Linked DNA regions of Homo sapiens. The protein of the gene in region 3 purifies or fractionates together with the protein of the main gene of each other region. This does not show direct contact. Each region holds a gene or a part of one and is shown on either strand. Other genes may lie near its edges. The genes, in order: TSR1, NSDHL and SERBP1.

Region 1 (3,830 bases), on a different chromosome or scaffold from region 3:
AACCGATCAAAGAACTATCACATACCCCACAACATACACAACTACTGGCCACCAAGAGAAAAGAGATCTGCACTTTGGCATAAACTTTTTTTTTTTTTGACATAAGAGTTTCGCTCTTGTTGCCCAGGCTGGAGTGCAATGGTGCAATCTTGGCTCACCACAACCTCCGCCTACTGGGTTCAAGCAATTCTTCTGCCTCAGCCTCCCAAGTAGCTGGGATTACAGGCATGTGCCACCACGCCTGGCTAATTTTGTATTTTTGGTAGAGACAGGGTTCCTCCATGTTGGTCAGGCTGGTCTCGAACTCCCGACCTCAGGTGATCCACCCACCTTGGCCTCCCAAAAAGTGCTGGGATTACAGGCGTGAGCCGCCGCGCCCAGCCAAACCTTTATTTTTAAGGCTGCCAACCCTTATTCAAAATCTGGTCTGAAAAACATACTTGGAGAAGTCTCAGAACCACACAGAGATTGCATCACTGAGATGCTTCAGACAGGTTCAGACGATATGAATAAAACCATCATTGACTTCTCTATTATTCTCCAATTCCTAATCATAAAGGCAGACTTTTTGCATCCCAATGAGCAAAATTTTAGTCACACATAAACAGAATTTTAGACTGTCAGAAGCAGCTGGAAAGTTTCACAACCCCCCATTTTCCCACAAGACAGCAATTTACCTTCTGTTCATGAGGTAGTAAAGAAAATGCAATCAAGGGTGTTCCTTGCCTGAAGCACTCGACCACTGAGACGGGGACTTCAGAGACATGAAGTGTGACATACCAGCCAACCTGCCACAAGAAAGCAGAAAGCAATCATGGAGTTACCTTTCAAAGTCCCAATAGCGAGGAAGCTTTCTCCAAATATGTTGAGTCTCTCAGATAAAATTTTTAAAGCCAACCCTCATCCTTCAAGATGCTTCATTTACCCAGATCACACTTTTTCATTTAACATAGCTGATACCTCTTTGTTCCCAGTATCATTCTAATCAATGACTCAGGGGCTCCCCTAATCCCCAAATGCAGCATATTTTCATGCCAAGAGAAGGAATAAAGTAGGGAGCATGTTGACAAATGAAAGCAACATACAAGATGAACAAGGAGGATAGATACCTCAGCTCCTTCAACCTCTTTTTCTTCAACCTCTTTAAAGATGCTTTTCCTAGTGTTAGTAAAGTTCTGAAACTGAAATATTCGAGCATAATCTTGAGGAAGGTTTTCCTTAGGATCCCATGGAGATGTCCGGAAGCTCTTAAGGCCTCTGTATTTCTGAAATCTAGAATATTGAAGATTTTTAAAGACATTAAGTCAGATTTATATGGTGCTATATAGACTCAAGTCACTGCTAAAATGGCTAAGGAGCTAGCTGAAAAGAACTCCAATCATCCTCTCTCCAAACAACCCAACAGCTTAAACCAAGACGACACTCCGAACAGCTTATAACAAGTTCTATCGGAACCAAACCCAAGCTTCTCACTGACAAAAAAGATGCTTGGTAATGGCCTGATACAGTTCAGATGTGTCTCCCTGCCCCAATCTCATACTGAAATACAATCCCCAGTGTTGGAGGTGGAGCCTGGTGGGAGGTGACTGCATTAGGGGAGAGGTTTTCTCATGAGTGGGTTAGCACCACCCTCCTTGTTGAGTGAGTTCTCATGAGATCTAGTTGTTTAAAGTGTGTAGCACCTCCTGCCTTGCTCTCGTTACTGCGCTGGCCGTGTGACATGACTTGCTCCCCCTCCACCTTCTGCCATGATTGTAAGTTTCTTGAGGACACCCCCAGAAGCTGAGCAGATGCCAACACCATGCTTCCTGTACAGTCTGCAGGACCATGACCCAATTAAATCTCTTTTCTTTATAAATTATGCAGTCTCTGGTACTTCTTTATAGCCATGCGAGAATGGCCTAATACATAGCCTTACCTCCTAATATCCAAAATTAATTCACTGGCTTTAGTCACTCACCTCCAGAACAGATATAATCATCTACTTCTTCACTCTTCTACTTCTGCTATTCTACCCAAACCCCCTAAAATTTCCAAACATTATATACTTCAATTGAGTACTGGCTCCTTTGGGAAGAAGTATTTGCTAATTAACCTTAGTATTTCCCCTTCATTCAAGTCCTGTAACGTGAGTCTGCACCACAGTCTAGAACTTAATTACATATGACCATTTCCCGTATGTATGTCCTGCCTTCCCATATTAAATGTTAGCTCTTCAGGAGCAGAAAAAATGTGTTTTTCTTCTTTTGCATCACAGTGACACAGCTCTGAGCCAAGTTTTTAAAAACGTATTGACTGAATTTAGATTTGTTGATAGACTTGTTGACTAACCGAATTCGAGCAGCCACATCACGGGGCGTGTCCACTTCATCTGGAAACATCTCTTCCAGTCTTTCTTGTTTATATTTCTCCAACATTTTTGCCTCAGCTTCTTCATCTACTTTCTTATCATACAGATCATCATGCACAGACTCCCCAATAGTCATAGTTTCATATTCTTCCTCTTCTTCACTACTCTCATCCTGTAGAATAGGATTACAGTTTTTTCAGAAGAAATCCACACCTGTCTCTACCCCAAAGGCCAATAAGCTAAGAGTAAAATAATTGTACTAGATCCCTATTCCCAACCAACATAAATTCTAATACAGTCTAAAGTATAAAACAAAAGCCTCATTCCTGGCAACTACAGAGTCATTCCTAAGAAACTAACCATACACGGCCGGGTGCGGTGGCTCACGCCTGTAATCCCAGCACTTTGGGAGGCCAAGGCAGGCGGATCATGAGGTCAGGAGATTGAGACCATCCTGGCTAACACAGTGAAACCCCGTCTCTACTAAAAATACAAAAAAATTAGCCAGGCATGGTGGTGGGCGCCTGTAGTCCCAGCTACTCAGGAGGCTGAGGCAGGAGAATGGCGTGAACCCAGGAGGGAGAGCTTGCAGTGAGCCCAGATCGCACCACTGCACTCCAGCCTGAGCAACAGAGCAAGACTCCGTCTCATAAAAAAAAAATAAAAAAAATAAAAAAAAGAAACTAACCACACACACCCATCAAGATCACACCTGCACTTTGCCTTACATTTGGAGCTAGACACAGAATTGGCCTAAGGCCTCATTTCCTTACCTGAGATTCCTCCTCCATAAAATCCTCATGTTCCATATCATCATATTCATATTCATCTCCTTCCCCACCACTTTGGCTGCCACCATCCAAAATCCATTCAGCTTGGTAACTGGATGTTCCTTTGGGGACCTTCTTTACCACCTTAGAACTTTCCTTCAAGAAATCTGTAAAAGCCCAAACAAATTAAGTAAATTACAGACTTCTTTTCCCTATCCCTCTGGTTATTCTCACCTAGGCAAGGCACCAGATACTGCTGCCAACATGGGAAATTCTGGCAGACACTGTAAATAGAACTACTTCCAAATTTAATTCAGCTGCCTCACAACTAGCAATACTTACACAGCTAAATAAGCCCTGCAATGAATCCAAAGTTGTTTATCTGTTCATGATAAAACATTAACACAAGTAATTTTGAGAAATGGAACAAGACTGTGTATAATGTTTGTTTATTGAAAACATACAGCATTTGAGGGTGAGGAGAGACTTTCAACTATACCCCCACCCCACTCTATCCTATAGGGCCCTCACTTGGAACAGCTACAGAAAATCCACAATTCCAGGTCAGATGAATTACAGACAAGTTTACCAATACTGACCCTTTGCCTCGCTCAGCTCCTCCTCAGTGGGCCAGGTTTGCTCTCCCTCCATTGGATCTGGGATAACCTCTGCTTGCAAGGATTCCTGTCTACCAGGGTCTGCCTTCATTA
Region 2 (3,830 bases), on a different chromosome or scaffold from region 3:
ACTACAGGCGCCTACCACCACACCTGGCTAATTTTTTGTATTTTTAGTAGAGACGGGATTTCACCATGTTGGCCAGGCTGGTCTCGAACCCCTGACCTCAGGTGATCTACCCACCTTGGCCTCCCAAAATGCTGGGATTACAGGCATGAGCCACCGTGCCTGGCCCCTATTCTTAACACTGTCTCCAAGAGGTTGATCTTATAACTCACCTCAGTAACCCATTATGGAGTCTTGCTGTTTCCAGTCTTGAGTTTTATACTTGATTGTTAGTACATGTTCATTCTTGTCCACTGTGGCTGTGAGAAGTAAAAAGTGGTCATGAAAAGTTTCATGTGATCTCCTGTAATCACACAGCATTATAGGTATGATTATCACACATTTGACTTCCCTGGGGTAAAGGCCAGTTTGATTCCCATCACTACAAGGGTCTCCAGGGAACAGCCATTGGCCTACTCATCCCAAACATTATTGATAGAACATTTCAATATCATAAAATAATCCACGTCACATTGTCCAAGAGTAGCGTACTGATTAGTCACAATTAAAATCGTGAAATGAAATCACACTGGACTAACAGCAAGGTTGTTTTTTGAAGAGATTAGCAACCTTTTGAAACACCTGTAACTAGAGATGCCAAATGAAATAAACAAGGCAGTCTGAAATCTTTCAGGATGCTTTAGTAACATATCTAGTTCTGACTGTCTTTGGGCTTAGCCAGACTTTTAGTAAACTGCAGAAATCCAGGTTGGGAAACAGGCAGCTCAGAGTTATTCTAAATAGCTACAGTTTGCCTGTACAGCTGACTTGGGAGGAGGGGAGAAGAAAGGGATTGCTAGAAAAGGGATTGATGTGAGTTTTGTATTTAATTTGGCTATGACTTGAGGAAATATACATCTCAGTCCAGGTGCAAATCATGTAACCTGGTATGATTACATGTGTTTAGGAATAATCAGAATAAAGCCTAGAAAAGAACAGGTTGGGAAGTTAGTTTTGGGTGGTAGAAGAATGGTGAGGCTGATTTTGTTAGTAGATTGCACATGGACAGATGAAGGTAAAGTACAGTGCCAGCTCCAGCTGGGCCTGGTGGAATCCAGTATGAGTGCTGTTTCAGATGGGACACCCCAACTGGGAGGGAGGTGGATCTAGAGAGGATGTCTGGCCCTGGCATCCCTTGAGTCTCTTGCATAGCTCAATTGTGTTGATGTTTAAGGAATAAGTAGGGAGATTTGTTTGTTTTTTAAATCTAGAACATAATTTCTTTAAGATCTTTCATTTCCACAAACCCAAGTTGGATTTACTGTATATGAGCTAAGGAAATTGGAGGTTGTCATCTTAAGGAGGCCCAGATACAGTTTTAGAAAGACCCTAGGGAGGAGGGATATCACAGGTCCTCCTCACAGACACCCATAGCCAGCTTGTCTGGTGTGCAGCAGCCACAGTTTGGCATCAACATCCTGAAATGAGGGTATTTAAGTGCCTGCATGTGCTACTGTGTCCTTTCATTATGCCCAGTCACCAGAGTTGGAATTACCCAAGGAATCGTGTGTGTTGTGGAGGCTGAGACATAAACACCATGGCTCTCCCCATTTCTTCAACTTCCTTGTAGTTCGGAGGAGGGAAAGCAGAGCCCTGGGCTCATCCATCCTCACTGCAGCCCCACCAGGAGATCCCATCAAGGCGGTCTTAGATTTCTAGGCTGAGGCAAGAAGGGGTTGGGCGATGAGCCCAGAGCCACACAGCCCAGCCCTGTTGTGGCCAGAGAGGGAAAGGGACTGACTTTGTCCTGCAAGTATGGAGACTGCTTTCTTCTTTCTGTTGTTTTCAGTGCAAGCTATCAGCTACCAAATGGCTGCCGTTTTGTTTTGTTTTGTTTTGTCCTTAGAGAAGCGCCCAGGGATCAGCTATCGGGAACAAGAAGGTATCACTGTTTTTTGGGGTATTTTTTAGATTGTCCAGTTTTGGTCATAGGTGGTTTGATTTCCTTTCACTGAATACAAAGCATGGATCTTGTCATCAAACCCAACCAAAGTCAATCTCAGTGTCATTCGCTATCTCTCTTCCCTCCTTACTGATCCCAGGAGAGAAGGTTAGGGTTGCACTAGTGATGGAACACCAGGATGATATAAAGCTTCCAACTTGGCTCAAGAAGAGTTCCAAACAAACAAGTATATCTGCCATTGCAGTGGCTCATGATATGTAAGTCTGGACTCTGTAGCTTCCAGTCCTCACTACCCTGGTCTTCCCCACCGTTCCTCTCTTTCCACAGGCCAAGAGATGCACAGTGATCGGTGGCTCTGGATTCCTGGGGCAGCACATGGTGGAGCAGTTGCTGGCAAGAGGATATGCTGTCAATGTATTTGATATCCAGCAAGGGTTTGATAATCCCCAGGTGCGGTTCTTTCTGGGTGACCTCTGCAGCCGACAGGTAATGGACCATGCAGCCTTGCTGATTTCCCACGAGCCCACGAAGGGAAACCACGATACTTCCCTTGCTCAGAAGCCAGCCAATTTGTTTGAAAAACAATTGTTTCATTGTGAAAATTTTCAAAGTTATAGGAAAGAACACCACATTCTTACTGCTTAGAATGAATAACCATCATCTCTGTCACAGATACTCAGCTGTGTCCTGGTAGCACAAAAGCAGCCATGGTCAGCACTTAAATGAACAAATGGCTGTGGCTGTATGCCAGTGAAACTTGACTTCAAAAGCCGTCCATGGGCTGTATTGTTCCAACTGCAAAACAAGTGTGTGCTGGGCCACAGGGTCTTGATTTTTTAATTGAGATATAATTCATGTACCACAAATTTCACATTTTTAAAGTGTGCAATTCAGTGATTTTCAGTACATCCACAAAGCTGTGCAACTGTCTCCCATGATCTAACTCCAGAATATTTGTATTACCCCAAAATGAAATCTTGTAGCCATCCCCTCTCTTCCCCTCCCAGCCCCTGGCCGCCACTCATCTACTTCCCATCTATGGATTGGCCTCTTCTGGACATTTCATATAAATGGAATCATGTAATATTTGTACCTCTGTGCCTGACTTTTTTCACTTAGCATGATGTTTTCAAGCTTCATCCATGTTGTACAGGTATGAATATCTTGAATTTTATTAGATGGTGCCAAATGGCTCAGCAAAGCTGCTATGTCAATTTTACCTCCATATCCACAATGTGGCACAAGCCCCATTGCTTCACATCTTTGCCAACACTGGGCATAACTAGACTTTTTGGTGTTGCCATTCTGAGAAGTATGAAGTGGTGCTTCACTGATGTTCAGAGTCACATGTCCTCCCTGACCAAGTAACCAGCCACTCTGCCACTGGGTGATCGGCTTTCAGGCTTCCTCCTGTGTGAAATGTTTGTCTGTGTCCTTTGCCCCTTTGTCTTTGGGGTTACCTTTGCTTCCTTGTTGATCTAGTTGGGATGCCAATCCTGTGCCCGTTGTACTTATTATGGATGGCTTCCCTCAGCCTGTCACTGGGCCCTTATTCTTGGCTTTGGTGTCATTCGCTATATGGTTTGTTGATGAAATATTAAGGCCATTGCTTCCGCTGCAAAGTTACGGTTGTTTTCTCTCCCGTGCTGCCCACACCTCCAGGCCTGGAGATGGGGTAGACATCTTTCATGCTCATCATTGCTGCCTCCGAACCGTTCTCCCTCATGCTGCTCTAAGCCTCTCCAGCTTTGAAGAGGATACCCTCAGACTGTACAAACCCCGACACCGTTCCCTCCTTGTGGTGGCCACCCACAGCCGCCTGCTCCCCTTCCCAGTGACTCCACATCATTTCTCAGTGATTTCAGCTCCTTTCTGGCATTATTATTGGTGA
Region 3 (3,600 bases):
CGCTGGGATTACAGGTGTGAGCCACTGTGCCTGGCCAACAGTAAGATTTTTTTAGAGTTCTGTCTTAATGTAGACACTAGCTAACAATGTAATTTTGAAGAACTGAGAACTGTGGTTAATTTTGGTTTTTCTTTTTCAGTCAAGTGCTTCTGCTCCTGATGTGGATGACCCAGAGGCATTCCCAGCTCTGGCTTAACTGGATGCCATAAGACAACCCTGGTTCCTTTGTGAACCCTTCTGTTCAAAGCTTTTGCATGCTTAAGGATTCCAAACGACTAAGAAATTAAAAAAAAAAAGACTGTCATTCATACCATTCACACCTAAAGACTGAATTTTATCTGTTTTAAAAATGAACTTCTCCCGCTACACAGAAGTAACAAATATGGTAGTCAGTTTTGTATTTAGAAATGTATTGGTAGCAGGGATGTTTTCATAATTTTCAGAGATTATGCATTCTTCATGAATACTTTTGTATTGCTGCTTGCAAATATGCATTTCCAAACTTGAAATATAGGTGTGAACAGTGTGTACCAGTTTAAAGCTTTCACTTCATTTGTGTTTTTTAATTAAGGATTTAGAAGTTCCCCCAATTACAAACTGGTTTTAAATATTGGACATACTGGTTTTAATACCTGCTTTGCATATTCACACATGGTCAACTGGGACATGTTAAACTTTGATTTGTCAAATTTTATGCTGTGTGGAATACTAACTATATGTATTTTAACTTAGTTTTAATATTTTCATTTTTGGGGAAAAATCTTTTTTCACTTCTCATGATAGCTGTTATATATATATGCTAAATCTTTATATACAGAAATATCAGTACTTGAACAAATTCAAAGCACATTTGGTTTATTAACCCTTGCTCCTTGCATGGCTCATTAGGTTCAAATTATAACTGATTTACATTTTCAGCTATATTTACTTTTTAAATGCTTGAGTTTCCCATTTTAAAATCTAAACTAGACATCTTAATTGGTGAAAGTTGTTTAAACTACTTATTGTTGGTAGGCACATCGTGTCAAGTGAAGTAGTTTTATAGGTATGGGTTTTTTCTCCCCCTTCACCAGGGTGGGTGGAATAAGTTGATTTGGCCAATGTGTAATATTTAAACTGTTCTGTAAAATAAGTGTCTGGCCATTTGGTATGATTTCTGTGTGTGAAAGGTCCCAAAATCAAAATGGTACATCCATAATCAGCCACCATTTAACCCTTCCTTGTTCTAAAACAAAAACCAAAGGGCGCTGGTTGGTAGGGTGAGGTGGGGGAGTATTTTAATTTTTGGAATTTGGGAAGCAGACAGCTTTACTTTGTAAGGTTGGAACAGCAGCACTATACATGAAATATAAACCAAAAACCTTTACTGTTTCTAAATTTCCTAGATTGCTATTATTTGGTTGTAAGTTGAGTATTCCACAGAAAGTGGTAATTATCTCTTCTCTCTTCCTCCATTAGAAAATTAGGTAAATAATGGATTCCTATAATGGGAGCATCACCACTTATTAAAACACACATAGAATGATGAATTAAAAAAGTTTTCTAGGATTGTCTTTTATTCTGCCACATTTATTGATAAACAGTGAAGGAATTTTTAAAAAATTTTTAAGAATTGTTTGTCACGTCATTTTTAGAAATGTTCTACCTGTATATGGTAATGTCCAGTTTTAAAAATATTGGACATCTTCAATCTTAAACATTTCTATTTAGCTGATTGGTTCTCACATATACTTCTAAAAGAAACTTTTATGTTATAAGAGTTACTTTTTGGATAAGATTTATTAATCTCAGTTACCTACTATTCTGACATTTTAGGAAGGAGGTAATTGTTTTTAATGATGGATAAACTTGTGCTGGTGTTTTGGATCTTATGATGCTGAGCATGTTCTGCACTGGTGCTAATGTCTAATATAATTTTATATTTACACACATACGTGCTACCCAGAGATTAATTTAGTCCATATGAACTATTGACCCATTGTTCATTGAGACAGCAACATACGCACTCCTAAATCAGTGTGTTTAGACTTTTCAAGTATCTAACTCATTTCCAAACATGTACCATGTTTTATAAACCTCTTGATTTCCAGCAACATACTATAGAAAACACCTGCTACTCAAAACACAACTTCTCAGTGTCATCCATTGCTGTCGTGAGAGACAACATAGCAATATCTGGTATGTTGCAAGCTTTCAAGATAGCCTGAACTTAAAAAGTTGGTGCATTAGTTGTATCTGATGGATATAAATTTGCCTCCTAGTTCACTTTGTGTCAAGAGCTAAAACTGTGAACCTAACTTTCTCTTATTGGTGGGTAATAACTGAAAATAAAGATTTATTTTCATGCTCACTTCTTAAAAGTCATAAAAACAATCAAATAGGATCATGTTTATTGTCATGTGTTTCCTGGTTTCTGACCTGTGTGCACACCCCTGTGTGTTTATAATTTTTAAATTGAATTTTATATGGGGTTTTTATTTGCTAAAAACCAGGCTGTTGAATCACATTTGGGAAGGGTACTTATCTTAATGACTAATGACTTAATTGGGAAAGTTGAATTCTTGTAAAATACAAAATCCAAGGACTTCTTGGATTTAATCTGATTGTCACTTCTTAGCAGATCACTTTTTTGATAATGAAAGTTAAGCATACTGAATGCTACTTTTGATTGACAAACTGGCTATAATAGTCTAGGGGAAAAATCCCTAAACAGATAAAGATTCCTAAAGTAATGGTGGCAGCTGATGTTTCAGTGAACTTTTATCTTGATGCGTTTAAATGGAAGTAATGCCAGACCTGAGATTTTTAAGGCATTTTTACAGCTTGTATTGAAATGATTGGAGACATGGTTTCTTTATTAGCTATTTTGAGACCTGTGGAGTTAAGCAAGACTTTTAAAAATTGGCACCATATACATCTAGTTAGTTCCTTTACTCTTATTTTTTTAAATAAAAGTAGTACACATCATTTCCAGGGTTGTAAATATATTTGGGGCTTGTTTTTGGTATGGATTTAAAAGGAGGATATTAAGTATTCATTCTAATTTTGTTATTTTTCTAGTTGCCAGAGATGGTTGCACTGAAATAGAACAGGGAGTTGCATACAAAGCCTAAATGTGTATTGGATTTCGAAAATACTAGGTTGGTGCAATTGGTTTTGTACCAACCTAACATGTCTTTAGGAAAGTACCATCATGTGGAAGGAAACAACAGGTGTTAAAAGGTTCAAAGGAATGAGAAATAGGAAGTTACTAGAACCTAACTGATGTTGACCTTAGAGGTAAGATTATTCAGGTATATTAGTGGACCTCCAGTCCAATGGTATAGCAAATTCCAGGGATCTCAGGTGCATGCAATTTTACTTTCTAAAGTAAACACTTAGAAAATAGATTATAACCCAGACGTTTTGGATTATACTGAGACAAATATGTAAATAAGTTTTAGCAAGTCTGAACATGTACCAGCGAGATCTTCAGGTTAACTAAGAAAAGCCCAGAAACTTCATTATTTACTGTGCTTTGTATGGCATAACTGGTAACAAGGCAGTAAAATGATACATATTTGAACTGGACCATAGTAATTAAATGATTTATCAATATCA

The links.
Region 1: the proteins of SERBP1 (region 3) and TSR1 purify together in Homo sapiens (affinity purification with mass spectrometry; 3 studies listed by BioGRID and IntAct, with this or other methods). This does not show direct contact.
Region 2: the proteins of SERBP1 (region 3) and NSDHL purify together in Homo sapiens (affinity purification with mass spectrometry; 2 studies listed by BioGRID and IntAct, with this or other methods). This does not show direct contact.

What each region holds. Positions count from the first base shown.
Region 1 is NC_000017.11:2,329,838-2,333,667, forward strand, and holds part of TSR1 (pre-rRNA-processing protein TSR1 homolog), read right to left. Parts: coding exon 3,720-3,830; intron 3,288-3,719; coding exon 3,124-3,287; intron 2,523-3,123; coding exon 2,332-2,522; intron 1,273-2,331; coding exon 1,110-1,272; intron 789-1,109; coding exon 678-788; intron 534-677; exon of another isoform or gene 442-533; intron 1-441. UniProt on the Homo sapiens protein: Required during maturation of the 40S ribosomal subunit in the nucleolus.
Region 2 is NC_000023.11:152,847,999-152,851,828, forward strand, and holds part of NSDHL (sterol-4-alpha-carboxylate 3-dehydrogenase, decarboxylating), read left to right. Parts: intron 1-2,266; coding exon 2,267-2,425; intron 2,426-3,830. UniProt on the Homo sapiens protein: Catalyzes the NAD(P)(+)-dependent oxidative decarboxylation of the C4 methyl groups of 4-alpha-carboxysterols in post-squalene cholesterol biosynthesis. Also plays a role in the regulation of the endocytic trafficking of EGFR.
Region 3 is NC_000001.11:67,409,803-67,413,402, reverse strand, and holds part of SERBP1 (SERPINE1 mRNA-binding protein 1), read left to right. Parts: intron 1-139; coding exon 140-196; 3' UTR 197-3,600. UniProt on the Homo sapiens protein: Ribosome-binding protein that promotes ribosome hibernation, a process during which ribosomes are stabilized in an inactive state and preserved from proteasomal degradation.